Regions from separate parts of the Homo sapiens genome. Here region 2 is linked to region 1. Evidence: fine-mapped expression QTL. Tissue or cell type: whole blood. Region 1 holds a variant in brackets; the other region holds the start of a gene. All regions are shown on one strand. Distances are between the middles of the regions.

Region 1 (2,900 bases):
CTCCCCTGGGCCTGTGTGAGGGGGTGAGAAGTGTTTCCTGTTAGTGGACTCCTCCTCCAGGCCAGGCCTCCCTGGAGACAGAGCTGGCTGCCCGGGTACTGGAAGTCAGCTCTACTCTGATAATACTTCTGCAGAGGGTCTCGAGATGCTGGGACCCGCCGGGCTGCCCTTTATCACCATGGGACTGCTCGTCAGTGGTCTTGCAGGAAAGCCATGGCCAAGACTCTCTCTCTCCAAGCATGAGCTCTGTGTTACTTTCTGGCTCAGCCACTGCCTCCAGGCAGCCCTCCTGTTAACCACAGTGCACGAAACTCTCCCTTCTTGGCTTCTTGGATATAGCACCCATCCTGCTTGAGTCCCATCTGTCTGGGATGTTCTCCGTCATTTTCTTGAGGGTCCCACCTGCTCCTCTCCCCGAAATGGACATCCTGGAAGGTGGAGTCTATACTGCTTTTCTCTCCCCAGCAACGTTGAATCCGGAGTCAGCCTGGGCTCCGCAAACAACGGCTGCCATCTCCAGCTGGAAGCTGGAGCACAGGGCTAGCAGGGGCCAATACGTTTCTAGTCCAAACACTGCAGTTTTGCAAGAACTAGAGAATGGGCATGACTTGGCAGAGGGCACACAGCGAGTCAGAGGCAGAGCTGGGACTGAGCTCGTGGGGTCCGGGCTCCTAGGGCAGTGCTCCCGGGGTTCTGTCCCGGGGTCCTGTCCGTGGGTCTGAGCTGTGTGTGTGCTGAGCTCTCTCAGGCAGAGAGGGCCAAGCCCAACCCGAGGACAGGGGAGGGGTTGGCAGAGATATCCCTGAAAAGGAAGAGCCTTGCCAGGGAGAAGAATCACTTAGGGACCCCACGGCCCCTCCTACGTTGAGGGCTGACAGCATCTAAGTGCAGAGAGCGCCTTCAGAGCCGAGGACACCGAAGTCCAGAGAGAAGAGAAGTTGCAGCATTCTGGGGCTGGTTTTCCTCTGGCTGCTCTCCTCACCCCTTCCTGTAGTGCACGTAGGGCAGGGGCCTGCAGCTGGGTGCCCAGGCCAGGGGGCCTCATTGCTGGACTCTGAGCCCACTGCAGCTCCCACCCACCCTCCTGAGCTCTGCCTTCCCCTCTAGAGTCAGCTCGAGGTAACGGGGAACAGCAATGATGTCTGTGGCCCAAAAGAGTGCACTGGGGTGGGAGGTGGGTCTCCAGGTGCTGCAGGCGATGGGACTCTCAGGGTGACCAGCCCCCAGTGCCACCTCCAGGAATCTCACTGCTTGCTGGCAATCTTCTTCTTCCGAGTAGAGACCAGGTCGTAGAAGGGGACACGGGTGATGCTGGCTCTAGAATGAGTGGGAGGAGAGATTTCAGGGCTGGACTGGCCGTCAAGGTGGTCTGCTCTCCCAGGGCTTGTATCAGGGGCATGGGATTCCCAGGGAGGTGTCAGCCTGCTCTGCCGCGGGGGAAAGGCCAGATGGCCCCA[A/G]CAAAGGCTGTGCCAGGGTAAGTCCAGACTTGTAAGCCTAACCCAGTGTCCCATGGGCAGGGCCAGAGTGGGTGAGGCCTCCGATCAGGAGCTGAGAGCCTTGGGAATTCTACTCCCAAATGTCTCTGGGCCCCTCTCCAGGCTCCCACTGGCGACCTTCGGAAGGTGATGGGAAGAGCTTGGGGTGGAGCTGGCAGACCTGCCTGTTGGACCCTGCTCTGTCCCTGGTTCTGTGGCCTGGGCAGGTCCCTCCCATCTCTGGGCCTCAGTTTCCTCATGTGTAAGATGGAGGTGAGAATGGGTCTGCCTGGCAGCCTCACAGGCTCACAAGGCCCAGGGGAAAAGACCCTGCAAGTCCCCGGGACACGGCCCCTGCCCAGCAACCACTTCAGCCTTCCTCTGGCCACCAGGCCTCACCCTTGCCAATATCTTGGGCTGGCTCAGAGTCAAGCCTTGAGCAGGCTTGCCATCTTGCCCTTTACCAGATGCATCTTCCTCATGTCTCTCCTGTTGGTGGCACCACAGAACCAGTCCCTACACTTTGGCTTTCCTCACCCAGCCACCCCTCCCTATTTATGAGTCTATGGCTCCCCAGTGCCCCAGGAGAAACTGAAGCTCTTCACCACGGTGGCTGTGGCTTTGTCATGCTCAGCAGTTTCAGCTCCCACACTGCTTAGCCTCACTCGGACTCCGGGATGCTGTGCAGGTAGGCCGCCTGCTGGTTGCCCACATGGGTCCGGGTCCTTTTACCTGGAAGTTTATCTGGAAAGCCCTTCCCTCCACCTCCACCAGGTCCTTCCCAGGCCACTTTGGATAGTGATGCCAACAAGAGCACTCACCACGTGCCAGGCAAGGGCGGGGCAAGAACTTTATGTGCAACTCTTTGCTCTATTCTCCCACCAACCCCATGCAGGTGGTCTCTCCTTTCCCTGTGTCCTGGGGCCTGGCCTGGTGCCAGGCACACAGAAAGTACCCATGGAATACGGGTGGAAGGGGTTTGCCAGCCAGAAACAGGAGGGAGAGACTGGAGTTAGCCCCTTTACAGATAAGGAAGCAAGACCCAAAAGAAGCAGGGCCTTCTGGAAGGTGACGGGAAGCCGTCCCCAGACCTGGGCACCCCTTACCGGATGGACTCGATCCACTGGTCACGTTCCTCGGCACTGGTGGCTGAGATGCGGTACGATTCGTGCTTGCCCTCCACCACCCTGCCGTCGCCATCGGTCTTGCAGGCCTTGATTTTCTGGCCTCGGCAGCTAGGGTTGTAGAGCTCCAGGCAGAACTGTGGGGAGGTGGCCAGGCAAGGGTGGGAAGAGAGGGAGGCTGGGTGGGCCCTCCAGGAGGCTCAGAGAAGCCCAGACGCTAGTGTCCCTGATCAGCGTGACAGCCCTACGACAGGCGAAGGGGCAGGAGCTGCTGCTCCCACACTGAGCACTCTCTCTGTGG
Region 2 (2,900 bases), 31 kb after region 1:
GTCAGTCCCCGTCTCTAGTTCACCTCTGGGAGCCTCAGTTTCCTTATCTGCAACATGGAGACAGCCATCCCTGTAACCTCAGTATGTTAGGACCCGAAAGGACAAAGCGCCCTGCTGGACACACAGGCAGGGGGGTTGCATCTCGGTGGGTGCCCTCCCCCCCTCATCCCACCCTCATGTCTGCTGAGAGGCCTGAGCCAGGTGCTGCCCTTCGCTGGGTCTCCCTGTGCCAACCAGGTGCCCCCAAGCTGTGCTCACTGAGCTGTGATTTTGGGAGCCCCCAAAGCCCATGGGAGAGGCAGGGGTCAGAGTGAGCCCTGGATAGGGATTCAGGGAACAGGATTTGGTCCTGCTCCTGCCTTAGAGAGGCTGTTTTCCTCCCTTGGCCTCTTTTCTCCCTTCTGCCACTGGGGGGGCTGTTGAAATGGATCAGTGGTTCTCTGGGTTCCCTGGGGCCCGAGGCTTCCATCTGGGGGTGGGGAGGAAGGGGGATGCCCAGTGGGCGGGGCCAGGCTGCTCCACATTAGGTGCGTTTGAAGCAAGGGTGCTCCTGGACAAGGCTGAGGTCATCTGGACCTGGGGAGCAGACAGCTCCCACGAGCCCTTAGGTTCTGGAATTCCAGCAGCCGTGTTCACCAGAACTGTTGCAGCTCTGGAGCATGCTGACATCCAGGGTGCAGAAACTTGGCCCCTCTACCGGGCCTTCAATTTGCCTCCCAAAACACGACCCTGATGTTCTTTTCCTCACCATCTTTGCAGCCTCCTTTCTCCTCTTTCTCCCCAGACACATTGTCTTAGTAGCTGGGGAGGGTTTCAACCAGAGCCTCTGTTGCTCACTCCTGGCCCTCCCCTGGCTCTAGGCAGCGTCCTCAGCCTCCCCAAAGACCACCCCAACCCCCGGGGGCCAAAAAGGGGCCTCAAGGCCCTTGTATCACCCAGACAAGCATCGCCATCACCAACATCCCATCATCATCTTAATCGCAAGTCACTTTTCTGAGTCCACCTCTGAGCCTTTGGACTGGCTGTTCCTTCTGGCTGGAATGTTTGTTCCTTAGAAAGCCCCTTAGCTGACATCTTCCTCAGGTCCCTCATCAGACAGCATCTCCTCTTGGGGCCTTTTCCACCATGCATTCCTGTCTTCCTTACCCTGCTTTACTGTTCTTCATCCTACCTGCCATCAACTGACATATGGAATCACATTAGAGTCACTGCCGGTCTCCTCATCTAGAGCACAAGCCTATGAAGGGGGAAACAGCGTCTGCTTTGCTACTGCTGTGTGTCCAGCCCCTAGAACGCAACTGGACACACAGGCTGAGCCCACAAATGTTTGCTTCTTGCAGCTGCATTTCCCACCTGCGCTGTATTCCTTTATCTAGGACCCTGTGAGGCAGGGGCTGCTGTCCCATTCTAAAAGAGAGCACCCTGAGGCCCAGAGAGGTTGACGGCAGTTGCTTACCTGGGTGGCACAGGTCCATTCCGACGCCTCTGGGGAAAAGATGACCCGTGCTCCTGTCGCTTGCCGACCCAGCTGCTGTTCGGGCTGGCCCGGCAAGGATGCGTCACCTTGACTGTAACAGGCTCCTTCCTGCTTGCCCCGCCCAGCCCTGTGTGGGGAGGAAGTCAGTCCTGGCCCACGGGGGTCTCGTGTGCAGGCTTTTGACAAAACAGCACTTCCTAAAAACTGGCAGAGTTTTGAGCAGCAGGGACTTTTGCCAGGGAGGGACAGAGGTGGAAACAAACAAACAAACAAACAAACAAACAGATGAAGTGAGGGGAGGGCCAGATAAAAAAGAGAAAGACAGTGAGACAGAAAGAAACACACAGACACATATGCACATACACACGTACACATGCACAGACACCGAGGGCGATGTTCACTGAGGACGAACATTTTCCAGGGGACCATGGGCATTCACGTGGCAGCCTCCTCACATATATGCCATAGGAGCGCCCAACTTGGACAGTCCTAGCAGGGCCCCCTGTGTTCCACCCCACAAGCTCTCTTCCAACTCCCACTTGAGAAGAGACAAATGAATTCACTGCTAGGAAGGGCTTTGCTTCCCTTCAAAGAAATATCTGGCTTTTTCTTGTCTAGTGAACAATCGGGTAATATGTTCCACTTTCCTTCTCCCCCAGGCTGCTGGGAAACTCATCGTCAAATCCAAAGCTCATCGACAGCTATTCTATGATGTCATGTGAACTTTGGGGCCTGACTCAGCTGTTTGACTCTCAGCTAGGGCTAGTCAGCCTCGCTTTGCTTATCTCTGAAAGGGGAATAACACTAACTCGGGGATATGGAAACCATGGAGTGAGAGGATGTGTCGGAGATGCTTGGGACATAGTAGGTGCTCAATAAACACTTTCTCCTTTGATTTTAATTATCTTCTTTGGTTAAAATGTATCATGTTATTCCTTGTGCCTTTTCTGGCAGGTTGGTTCAAATCCTTTCTGCAAAAAGCTTTGCTGTAAAGAAACAGGTATAAATTAAATGTGAATTCCCTATAACTTCAGGACACATGCAGAGTTATTCATCTGTTTCCCCATTACTCTCCAGGCCCCATGAGGGCAAGGTTACCTTTTGTGTTCTGGTGTGTGGTAAAATGCTGGGGACATAGAGGGTGTGCAAGTGTGGAATGAATGAACAAATGAATGAATGAATGAATGAATGAAGGGAACATGGAAGAGATCACGGCCGATGTGAAAGCTAGCTACAAGTTCACCTCCTTTTCACTATGCCGCCGCTTCTGCTGTCAAGGGGCGAAGTCCATTTCTCCTTCCTTGGAAGCTGAGCTGGCCTTGGGCATCTCTTTGACCAATAGCACGTGGCAGAAATGATGTGCCGTGATGTTCGAGGCTGAGCTTTAAAAGGCCTTGCAGCTCCTGCTCTTGCTCTCAGCCCC

Evidence for each region.
Region 2: CYTH4 starts here. The variant in region 1 is fine-mapped to the expression of CYTH4 in whole blood (TOPMed, PIP above 0.99).

Annotation. Positions count from the first base shown.
Region 1 is chr22:37,311,856-37,314,755 of GRCh38, reverse strand. It overlaps CYTH4 (cytohesin 4), which reads right to left. Exons shown (of 13, transcript NM_013385.5): 12 at 2,582-2,736; 13 at 1-1,317. The coding sequence ends at 1,245. It overlaps LOC105373024 (a long non-coding RNA gene), which reads left to right. Exons shown (of 4, transcript XR_938232.3): 3 at 2,053-2,163. Among named protein-coding and RNA genes, the nearest start is that of CYTH4, 31 kb to the right of the region's middle. RefSeq lists an enhancer at 2,473-2,900. The variant A/G (reference allele first, on the strand shown) is at 1,458.
Region 2 is chr22:37,281,145-37,284,044 of GRCh38, reverse strand. CYTH4 (cytohesin 4) reads right to left here and starts at 1,537. Exons shown (of 13, transcript NM_013385.5): 1 at 1,457-1,537. The coding sequence starts at 1,475. RefSeq lists enhancers at 133-182, 1,729-1,778.